3 linked regions of the Homo sapiens genome follow. The protein of the gene in region 1 purifies or fractionates together with the protein of each later gene. This does not show direct contact. Each region holds a gene or a part of one and is shown in the gene's direction. Other genes may lie near its edges. The genes, in order: SYT2, RAD18 and EIF2B3.

The links.
Region 2: the proteins of SYT2 (region 1) and RAD18 purify together in Homo sapiens (co-immunoprecipitation; 2 studies listed by BioGRID and IntAct, with this or other methods). This does not show direct contact.
Region 3: the proteins of SYT2 (region 1) and EIF2B3 purify together in Homo sapiens (co-immunoprecipitation; 2 studies listed by BioGRID and IntAct, with this or other methods). This does not show direct contact.

What each region holds. Positions count from the first base shown.
Region 1 is NC_000001.11:202,700,397-202,704,047, reverse strand, and holds part of SYT2 (synaptotagmin-2), read left to right. Parts: intron 1-3,651. UniProt on the Homo sapiens protein: Exhibits calcium-dependent phospholipid and inositol polyphosphate binding properties. May have a regulatory role in the membrane interactions during trafficking of synaptic vesicles at the active zone of the synapse.
Region 2 is NC_000003.12:8,942,931-8,946,581, reverse strand, and holds part of RAD18 (E3 ubiquitin-protein ligase RAD18), read left to right. Parts: intron 1-3,651. UniProt on the Homo sapiens protein: E3 ubiquitin-protein ligase involved in postreplication repair of UV-damaged DNA. Postreplication repair functions in gap-filling of a daughter strand on replication of damaged DNA.
Region 3 is NC_000001.11:44,878,562-44,882,212, reverse strand, and holds part of EIF2B3 (translation initiation factor eIF2B subunit gamma), read left to right. Parts: intron 1-473; coding exon 474-601; intron 602-2,204; coding exon 2,205-2,395; intron 2,396-3,651. UniProt on the Homo sapiens protein: Acts as a component of the translation initiation factor 2B (eIF2B) complex, which catalyzes the exchange of GDP for GTP on the eukaryotic initiation factor 2 (eIF2) complex gamma subunit.

The sequences.
Region 1 (3,651 bases):
AGTCAGGAAAGCTCCCCCGAGGCATTTGTCAGGTGCCTCTCAGTAAGGCAGGGAGTCCTCAGACCATGGAGAACTCTGGCAGGACTTGCCATAATTGGGTTGATACAGTGGCTCTGGAATTTAGTAATTAGGAAATATTGCAATTAGAGACGGAATTTACCCATTACTATTCCATGCATCTTAATACAGGGTGTAAGTGGTTGTAACTGTGAGCTTGGCACTAGGCATATGGGAAAATAGAAGTGAATGGAGAAATGGGATGAAGGAAGGAGGGGATGGGAGGAGCTTAACCCTTTCCATACCCGAGTAGACTGAAGGAGCAGCCTGGGGGTGATGCAGGGTTAGGGCGAGCCCAGCAGCCCACCGCATTTGTAAGAGGTGACCGAGGCAAAAATCACAGGCTCCCTCCGGACCTTCTGCTTCTTTAGCTCAGGTAGGATCAGATGCAGGGCTTGGCAGGGGTTAGGAGAGTGGTGATGGAGGCCAAGAGGGAGAGGCTGCAGGGGAGAAGGGCTCTTCTCCCAGTTTCCTGCTCAGCTGTGGAGAAACAGAAAAGAGTTGTAACCACCTGCAGTAGTGTGCATGTGAGAGACAGGAGAGGGTACCTTGTACCTTCATCTCTCCCTCCCCACTTGTTCCTTCCCCCGCCCTTCTTTTTACTCCCTTCCTCACTCCTACTCTTAGCTCCATTTTCCTCTGAAGTCAAATGAGGCATTTGTGGTATTGCAGGGCTGAGCTGGGTAGGGCCATGTGTATGGGCGGCGGAGGGAGGGGAGCGGTGGCCGGGGGTGGGAGGGTGGTAGCGTCAAAGAGGTGGTGCTCATTTTTTCCTTTCCAGACCAGAAATGCCTTCCCCAAGGTCAGCCAGTGCTCTGAGCTCCAAAGACCTTCCCAGAGAACCTCTGCTCCCTAAGGGCTGGGTGGTTTGAGAGAAATCTCTTTTCCTCACCATTGATTCCAGTCTGAACTAATGATCCAGATGTGTTGTGCATGTCCTTCCTCTTCTACAAAGTGACTCGGGAAGCAGTTTTTATGCTATTTGTAGAAAGGAAGCATTTTCTGGAGCGGGGCCTTCTCTGCTTCTGCTACACCTTAACTCCCTAGATTAGAGGAGAGCTGTGAGGCCGCAAGGAGGGGGGCCTGGAGAGGGGCTTGGGCTGAGGGTGGTAGAGGTCTCTGAGGACTGTCCTTGTCTTCTGCCTCCTGTGTTTATTTGGAGAAAAGCCCATTTAACAAATGTACAGGTCTTTACCTCTATCCCTCTTGGGGCTGTCTGCCATGTATCTTTCATTGTACCAACTCAGATGGACCAAGTGACGGCCCGGTCATAGGGCCTAAGATGGGATGTTAGGAGACGGGGTGGAGGCCTGCAAGCAGGAGGAGAGGGGACCACCCAGGCAACCCTCTAGAAGTGCAGGAAGGATGAACAAGAACCTATTGGTTAAGTGCTCTTGGGTCTTGGAGGGAAGCAGACCTAGGACTGAAATCCATCCTCACCACTAGGAGCTAAGAAGAGTTACAGGTAAACCCCAGGAAACTCAAGGGTGGCTGTGGCTAGGATCAGTGTTAGCGGGAAGCATGGAGTTAATTGGCTGTGGGAGGGCTCCCTCTCCCAGTTTGACTCTCCCACGAGTAGGAAAAGGCATCACTTTAATAAGGCTGCCCTGTTTCCAAATCAATCCTGGCATTGCAGGAGGCGAAGGGGGAAGCACAGCTGAGAAATTGGATTAGCTCTTTGATGCTGGGAACTGTGCTGGTTGCTGCTGCTGCAGCTGCAGGAGGCAGGGAAGCATCAAGAACTGAGCCTGCCATTGGCAAGCCAGCCCCAGACGTCTGAGGCTTCCCAGGGAGGCGTGCTCCACCCCCATTAGGTCTCCTACTGGTAGAGGGTGGCAGGGGTGCCCTGGGGCAGACAGTAATAGAAGCCCAGGTCCTCACCACTGCAAACCTGGAGGTGTCTTCGTGCCTCCCCTGGAGTAGATCGTGAGCCCCAAAGACCTCAGGAGGTGAGGCAATGGGGAAGGGGCAGAGGAGAGGCCCCCACAGCATGTTCTGTAGGGCATAACTGAAGCAGCGTGTGTGTGGCTGGGAGTCAGATGGCCTAGGTCAAACCAAGACTGCCACTTCCTGCCTGTGTGACCCTGGGCAAGTTACTTAAACTTTCTGAACTTCGGGGTCCTCATCTGAAAATGGAGACAGTAACACACAGGGAACAGGCCCTTGTGAAGTTTACCTTATAGCAGTAATCAAGATGGGGGCCACGGGTCCCTGGGAGTCCCTAAGAATTTTCAGGGGGGTCCATAAGGTCAAAGCAGTTTCCATGATGGCAATAAAGTTATTTGCCATTCCCATGCTTGACATTGATGGTGCTAAAGCAGTGGTGGGTGAAGCTGCTGGCACCTTACCATGAATCAAGGTAATAGTATCACACTGCACCCGTCTTTGTGTTCTTCCACACTACACACCCGCTAAGCAAAGTAATTGGTAAATAATGAAATGCCATTTTCAGTTAAGAATGTCTTCTTTTCATGAAGCAGCAAAGATTATAATTATATTGAAGCTTGATTCTGGAGTGCACATCTTTTTAATATTCTCTGTGATGGAATGAGAAGTACACATAAAGCACTTCTGCTTCTTACAGAAATATTACACAATAATTTCTCAAGCAACTGAACAGTGCCCATCACCTGTGCATCTGTTTGAGTTGCAGGCTGAACTAGCCATTTTTCCATGGGATACCATTTTATCTGAAAGAACAACCAACAAACTCCAGTTATTCAGACTTGGGTGTTGAGCAGGCATTTTTGCAAAAATGAACGAAGTGAGCTCGTCACTTCCAGAAAAACAACTGGCAGTATTTGTGGCCAATGATAAAATTTAAGCTTTCAAGCAAAAATTAGAATTTTGGAAAACTCACACATATTACTATGAAAAGGACTTTTGTGATAAGATCAGTGGGAATAGTAATAGATGTGATTTGTTAATATTGTTTAATGAAATTCATCAATATTTGAAAGATCTTCACAATTCGGCAAGCCAATATCTTCGAAATGATAAATGAATGATGTCACAAAATCATGCACAGAGGCAAACAAGCATTCCAAGTGCAAGGTTTCAGATTCCCCACTGCAGCCAGTCTTTAAGAAGCTACCACTTGGGGAGCAGTGATGTCATATCAAAGAAAAATATCCACAATGATCTGAAAAGGCTTTATTAAATACCCCTCCCCTTTCCAGTTACATATCTGAGTGAGGTTGGATTTTCTTTCATCTTTCAATCAAAGTAATGTATTGCAGACAGACCGAACACCGAAGTTGATATAAAACTCTAGCTACCTTCTAGTAAACCACACATTAAAGAGATTTGCAATGATGTGAAACAAGGCCTCCTTCTTACTAGATATTTTACTAGAGAAAACGTCTACTATATATTTTTTTGGTCTTGGAAAATATAGTTACTTATTAAATATGTTGTATTAACAGGTAATGAGTTACTATTGTATTTTGAGCTAATTTAGAAATTTCTCAGTTTTAATTTTGAATATGGTAACTATGGATGGATCTAACTTACATAAGAAAACGCTCTTGGAGGGTCCTCAATAAACGGGTCTTAGAACCAAAAGGTTTGAGAACTGCTGTCCTAGGTGAAGCC
Region 2 (3,651 bases), on another chromosome or scaffold:
TTTGGTCACCCAAAGGGATATGAAAAGGCATGTTTCAATATCTTGGATTACTTTTAGTTTTAATCATGCAAGTCAAACAAGAATTTTTATGAAGGACGTACTGGTTTAGATAGTGGTCAGGTGCCCCTGTAGTTAAGTGTAATCATGTGTTGCTTAACAGGGATGTGTTCTGAGAAATGTGTCATTAGGCAATTTGGTTGCTGTGTGAACATCATACGGTGTACTTACACAAACCAACATGGTATAGCCTACTACACTCCTATTCTATATGGCAGGGCCTATTGCTCCTTGGTAACAAAACCTGTACAGCATGTTACTATAGCTAATACGGTAGGCAGTTGCAACACAATGGTACCTATTAGTGTATCTAAACATAGAAAAAGTACAGGGAAAATATGGTATAAAAGATAAAAAATGGTACATCTTTATAGGGCATTTACTATGAATGGAGCTTTCAGGACTGAAAGTTACTCTTGATGAGTCAATGAGTGAGTGATAAGTGAATGTGAAGGCCTAAGGCCCTTACCATACACTACTGTAGACTTTATAAACACTGTACACTTAGACTACACACTAAATTTATAAAAAAGTTTCTTCAATAATTAACCTTACTGTAACTTTTACACTTTGTAAACTTTTATATTTTTTTAACTTTTTGACTCTTTTGTAATAACACTTAGCTTAAAACACAAACACATCGTATAGCTGTATAAGCATCTTTCTTTATATCCTTATTCTGTGAGGTTTTTTCTGTTTTTAAAAATTGTTATTATTTTTTCCTTTTTAAACTTTTTCTTAAAAATGAAGATGGAGGCCGGGCTTGGTGGCTGACGCCTGTAATCCCAGCACTTTCGGAGGCCGAGGTGGGTGGATCACGAGGTCAGGAGATCGAGACCATCCTGGCCAACATGGTGAAACCCTGTCTCTACTAAAAATACAAAAATTAGCTGGGCATGGTGGCACACACCTGTAATCCCAGCTACTTGGGAGGCTGAGGCAGGAGAATCGCTTGAACCAGGGAGTTGGAGGTTGCAGTGAGCCGAGATCACGCCACTGCACTCCAGCCTGGCGACAGAGTAAGACTCCGTCTCAAAAAAAAAAAAAAAAAAAAAAGAAGATGGAAACACACACATTAGCCTAGGCCCACACAGGGTTAGGATTATCAAGATGTCACTTAGCAATGGGAATTTTTCAGCTCCATTATCGTCTAATGAAACCACCACTGTGTATTTGGTCTCTTGTTGAACAAAGCATGTTGGAACATTCTATGAGGTACCTTATGTTGCTTTTAAAAATATAAACAGATTTCTTTCAATAGAATTACACATTTCTTTATTGGTTTGCATTCTAAAAACGATCAAATTTAGTACAGTTGTCTCTCAGTAAAGGGGATTGGTCCCAGGACCCCTGAGAATACCAAAATCTGTGGATGCTGAAGTCCCTGACATAAAATGGCATAGTATTTGCATATGCACATCCTCCCTTATACTTTAAATCACCTCTAGGTTACTTATAGTCCTAATACAATGCTATATAAATCGTTGTCATACTGTGTTTTTAAAATTTATATTATTTTTCATTGTTGTATTGTTACTTTTATTATTTTTTGAACATTTTTGCTCTGTGATTAGTTGAATCCACAGATGCAGAGCTGGTGGATGGGAAGGGCCGACTACAGTTTATTGTTTAGCCAAATGGTTCTAGACTGCTGTTTACATGTTTCTGATCAGAACAAGCATTGCAGGACTTTAGTTACAGAAGTCCATGGAATTGATTGCATAGATTTAATGGCTGCCCATGTCTACCCAAAGGCCTATTTTGACTCTTGATTCTTAGCCCCATTCTGAAGAGGTAAGGTTATTGTATAGTTAACAGATGGACAAGACTTTTCCTTCCTTCCTTCCTTCCTCCCTCCCTCCCTCCCTCTCTGCTTTCCTTTCTTCCTCCCTCCTTTCCTTTCTCCCTCCCTCCTCCTTTCTCCTTCCCCTCTCTATTCCTCCCTCCCCCGTCTATTCCTCCCTCCCTTTCCTTCCCTTCCTCCCTTTCCTCTCTTCTTCTTGCTCTGTTGCCCAGACTGCAGTGCAGTGGCATGATCATGGTTCACTGTAACCTCGAACTCTTGGGCTCAAGGGATCCTCCTGCCTCTGCCTCCCAATTAGCTAGGACTATGGGTATGTGCCACCATGTCCACACTGAAGAAATAAACAAAGCTTCCTTAAATATGTGGTAGAATTTACCAGTGAAGCCATCTGGGCTTGGAGTTTTCTTTGTGGAAAAGTTTTAAATTATAGCTTCTGTTTCTTTAACAGATAATAAGGGCTCTTCAGGTTTTCTGTTTCTTTGTCAGTTTTGATGAATAGTGCTTTTCAAAGAATTTGTCCATTTTATCTAAAATTTAAAATTTGTTGTTTTAAAGTGTTCATAATATCCTCTAATTATCTTCTTTATAGGATTTGTAACGAGGTCTTCTTTTAATTCTTTGTTTTGGTAATTTGTATTTTCTCTCATTTATTTCTTGTTCAGTCTTAGTAGGGATTAACAGTTTTGTTAATTTTTTCAAAGAACCAATGTTTGGCTTTGCTTGTTTTCTCTTGTTATCTCTTCTATTTCACTAGTATCTGTTATTAGTTTCTCTCTTCTTTGGGTTTAGTTTGCTGTTCATTTCCTAACCTTTTAAGTTGGAAGCTTAGAGTGGTGGTTTTTACTTTTTCTATTTTCAATAATTTTCCCTCCAGGGACAGTTTTGGCAACCCTTCATGCTATCGTTCAGTTTAGAATATTTTTCTAGTTTTCATTGTGATTTGACATGCGGGGTTATTTAGAAGTGTGGTGCTTTATTTCTTAACATTTGGAGATTTTCTAGTTATTTTTCTGTTGTTGCGTTTCATGTAAATTCGGTAGTGGTGGAATCTATGGGTTGATTTTTTTTTTCTATCAGATTTGAAAATTCTCAGCCATTGGTTTTTCTAGTATTGCTGATTTCCCATTCTTTCTTTCTGTTCCTTCTGGGCTTTTAATTATGCCCAATATCTCATACTTTTTTGTGTTTGTCTTTTTCATTCATTTTTCTCTCTGTGCTTGGTTTGGATATTTTCTATTGACCTGCCTTCAAGTTTGTATTGTGTGTTGTTATACTCATCCAATTTAGATATGGTATTTTGCAGTTGTAGAATGTTCATTTTATTCTTTTTTATGGATTTTATTTCTCATAATACACTATCTTTTTATCCCTTTTCTTTTTTTTTCTTTAACATGTTTATCATAGTTTGAAGTCCTTACCTAGAGATGCTATTCTTTGGATTACCTCTGGGTCTGCTTCTATTGAATATTTTATCTCTTGATTAGTGGCTACTTTTTCTTGCTTCTTTGCATGTTCAATAATTTTAAAATATGTGCTGAACATTGTGGTTGAAACGTTGTAGAAGCTGTGAATTGTCTTCTTTTGAAAGATGTCACATTTTGTTCTAAGAGGCAGTTAAATTATCAGCTCTTCATCTTTGTTCTGTCAAGGCCTGGTATAATGTTTTCTTAGGTTAGGTCTGTTTGAGCTTTGTTTATATTTCTTCAGTGTGGTCCATTTTTCTAAGGTGTGGTCTTTGTGGGGTGTCACTTGAATGTCCATGATCTTACCAAGATTTCTCAGCTTTGGCT
Region 3 (3,651 bases), about 160 Mb from region 1:
TGTCCATTGGATTATGAATTCCTTGAAGTCAGAAATGATGTATTTCCAAGGCCTAGCACAGTAACTCGCATATGCTTGGTAAATGCTACATAAATTAATTAGCAATATAAAATTCTAATAAGGTCACAGTGTGAGAGAACACTGAAAAACATGTGCTAGTTTCTCATCTCTCTGCTTTCCATTGCTAAGTATAAATAAAAACATAAATAAAAAACACACACTGAACTAAAGATCAGGTCCCTTCTTCCCCTAGTACAGATTCCTGATCACTTAGACCCAACATCCTGTCTCAGTACCCACCAGGAAGCACTCTGCTTCTCCGAACTGCCAAGTCAATGCCACATTTGATCTCTGACAGTCCCAAGGTGCCATGACAGGAAAGGATTTGGCTTTTCCTTGTATGCACAGAGCTTTTGATCCGGGTATGTTCCAGACAGTCAGGTTTCTCATATTTGGCCATTCTTTCTTTCTAGGTCAATAACTTCTATCCGGAGTGAACTGATTCCATATTTAGTGAGAAAACAGTTTTCCTCAGCTTCCTCACAACAGGGACAAGAAGAAAAAGAGGAGGATCTAAAGAAAAAGGAGCTGAAGTCCTTAGGTCAGTTCTTGGGTTGGTTCAGTAAGAGGGGCAAGGGTAGCAGCACCTTTGGAAAGAGTGGTTGGGCAGCTTAGCCCAGCCCAAGATGCCTGACTCAAGGCAGCAGACTATTTCTAGCCTACGAGGCAAGACAGGCTTGCCAACCCACTGAGCTCTGGGTAAGCTTGCTCAGGCAGATTCTGCCACTGTGCTCTCGGCAACAGGCTAATCATGCCTCCAGCCCCATTCTCTGATTCATAGCTCTGGTTTGGCTGTGTTCCTCACTAGACCATTTTGCCTTTAAACTCCACCTGCCACTTCTTAGTTCCCCTGTTCTCTAGGCTCTAGGCAGCCCCGTTCCTGATTAAACTCAACCTCTTTTATCAAGGGAAGGAAAGTGAAGGAATGTACAATTGCAGTCCAACCACAGGCCAACCCAGGTGTCTCCGTGCCAGGATCTGAAGATCGGATCTGTCTTGTTTGCTGTCATATCCCTAATCCCCGGCCCAGTCGTGGACTCATAGTAGATATTCTGAAAAAGTATTTATCAAATGAATACACTGACAGTACAGCATGATGATTAGGACTGTAGAACTGGGCATCAGACAGTTCTGGATTTGAAATCTGACTGCCTCTTACTAGCATTGTGTCTTTTTTTTTTTTTATTTTTTTGAGACGGAGTCTCCCTCTGTCGCCCAGGCTGGAGGGCAGTGGCGCAATCTCGGCTCACTGCAAGCTCCGCCTCCCGGGTTCACGCCATTCTCCTGCCTCAGCCTCCCCAGCAGCTAGGACTACAGGCACACGCCACCACGCCCGGCTAATTTTTGTATTTTTAGTAGAGACGGGGTTTCTCTGTGTTAGCCAGGATGGTATCGATCTCCTGACCTCATGATCCACCCGCCTCGGCCTCCCAAAGTGCTGGGATTACAGGCATGAGCCACCGTGCCCGGCCAGCATTGTGTCTTGAGGCAGGTTACTCAGTCCTCTGAGCCCCAGTTTTTTTATGAGAAAGTAAAAGATCTCAAAGGATCGTTGTAAGAGCTGAAAAACTAGAGCCCTGGTACTCTGGGCTCCAAGTTCTGTACTTTCTGTCATAGCACAGCTACCAGATATGGTAATAGAGACTAGCAGCACAAAGTCAACCTGGCTGGCCACTAAAGCCTGGATGCTGGCTTGTGTTATTTCATGATTTACAAGGGTCATCTGTTTTATTTTCCCTAGTGGTCTTGATTACCGGTCACATGCTTTTAGGACCTCGTATTAAGCATTTTTATATCATATGATATTTTAGGGAAGTACATTTCCTCTTTTAGTTTGACTTTCTCTTACAGATTTTAGTGGGATTTCCTCAGGGTTCATGTTTTGTGGGTGAGTTTCAAAGGAAGAAGTGTGAGCTGTAATCTCTTTTAAAACTTAGAGCCAAGCATGGTGGTGCACACCTGTAGTCCCAGCTGCTCAGGAAGCTGAGGTGGGAGGATCCCTTGAGTCTGGGAGTTTGAGACCAGCCTAGGCAACATAGCAAGACCTCGTCTCTTAAATAAACAAAAAAACAACTTGACTGAGTCTGTATCTGTTCTGTTATCTCTCTCTCATTTATTTCCTTGGTTGGGTGTTTGTTCTGAAGATATCTACAGTTTTATAAAAGAAGCCAATACACTGAACCTGGCTCCCTATGATGCCTGCTGGAATGCCTGTCGAGGAGACAGGTGGGAAGACTTGTCCAGATCACAGGTGCGCTGCTATGTCCACATCATGAAAGAGGGGCTCTGCTCTCGAGTGAGCACACTGGGACTCTACATGGAAGCAAACAGACAGGTGAGAGCATGAGTTAGAAAATCATGGGGCTCTTGTCCTAGAAACAGACTGAGCCACTTGTCTGTTTCTTCATTAGGTACATAGTAACTTGTTAAGAATCCCTGTCATTCCCAAGGTTGAGCAAGACCTGGCACGTCAAGGGAGACTACTAGGGTACTCAGGTGCAGCAAAAAGGGAAGCAGGGGGCCTGGTCCATAGTCAGGGCCTCTATGGCTCCAGGGAAAGGCTAAGATCTTCAGGAAGGCTAACTTCTGGCCTTTGGGTCAGCAGGTTCCTCCTGTTCTGTTCAGCATGGGGATATCTGCAGTACTTACTTCATAATAAGCAGGTAAATACTCTGTAATCATTACTCTGATGAAGTAAACATAGGCATACAGAGGAGGCTTCCCTGAGAAGGTGAAGGAGCAGAGTATAGAGTGGCCAGATGGCAAAGCCTCAGGAAAGGAATGACTTTGAGAGAGAATTGTCTGCAAACAGCATTAATGAGGAGTCTCTTGCTAGCCCCTCCTTTTAACCTTGAAGTTTGTGAGATATGGGGAACAAATAGCTTCCACTGAAGGAGAAGCAGTGTCCTCAAAGATAAGCCAGGCCTTAATGAAGGCAGGGGGTGGAGAGGGGGACAGTAAAGAGGCTGAAGGTATAAAGGAACTCTGTATTGTATAGTAGGCCCAGGAGGAAGGTTTTGGGAGGGAGGAATAATAAGACTAGGAAAAGGAAATGCAGAGCAGTAAAGGGTTTAGATGAGAATAAGAAAAGAGTCCGGGCACGGTGTCTTACGCCTATAATCCTAGCAATTTGGGAGGCCGAGGCAGGTGGATCGCTTGAGTCCAGGAGTTCGAGACCAGCCTGGGCAACATGGCAAAATCCTGTCTCTACAAAAATACTACAAAAATTAGCCAGGTATGGTGGCATGTGGCTGTAGTCCCAGTTACTTGGAAGGCTGAGGTGGGAGGATCACCTGAGCCTGGAATGCAGAGGTTGCAGTGAGCTGAGATTGCACCACCGCACTCCAGCCTAAGCCTAAGCAACAGAGTGAGACTCTGTATTAAAAAAAAAAAAAGAGGATAGGAAAAGATAAATAATTGAGGGAACTACATTGGGGTGGCATTCAAGGATAACAGAGGTGAGATAATGAAAAGATTAGTTATTGACATTGCTCCTGGTAGAACCCTGTGAAAATATAATTGCAGGTGTAGACCAGGGTGGCAGTGGAGCGCAGAATAATATAAAAGAAATTGTTGAAAATTGGGATTGAG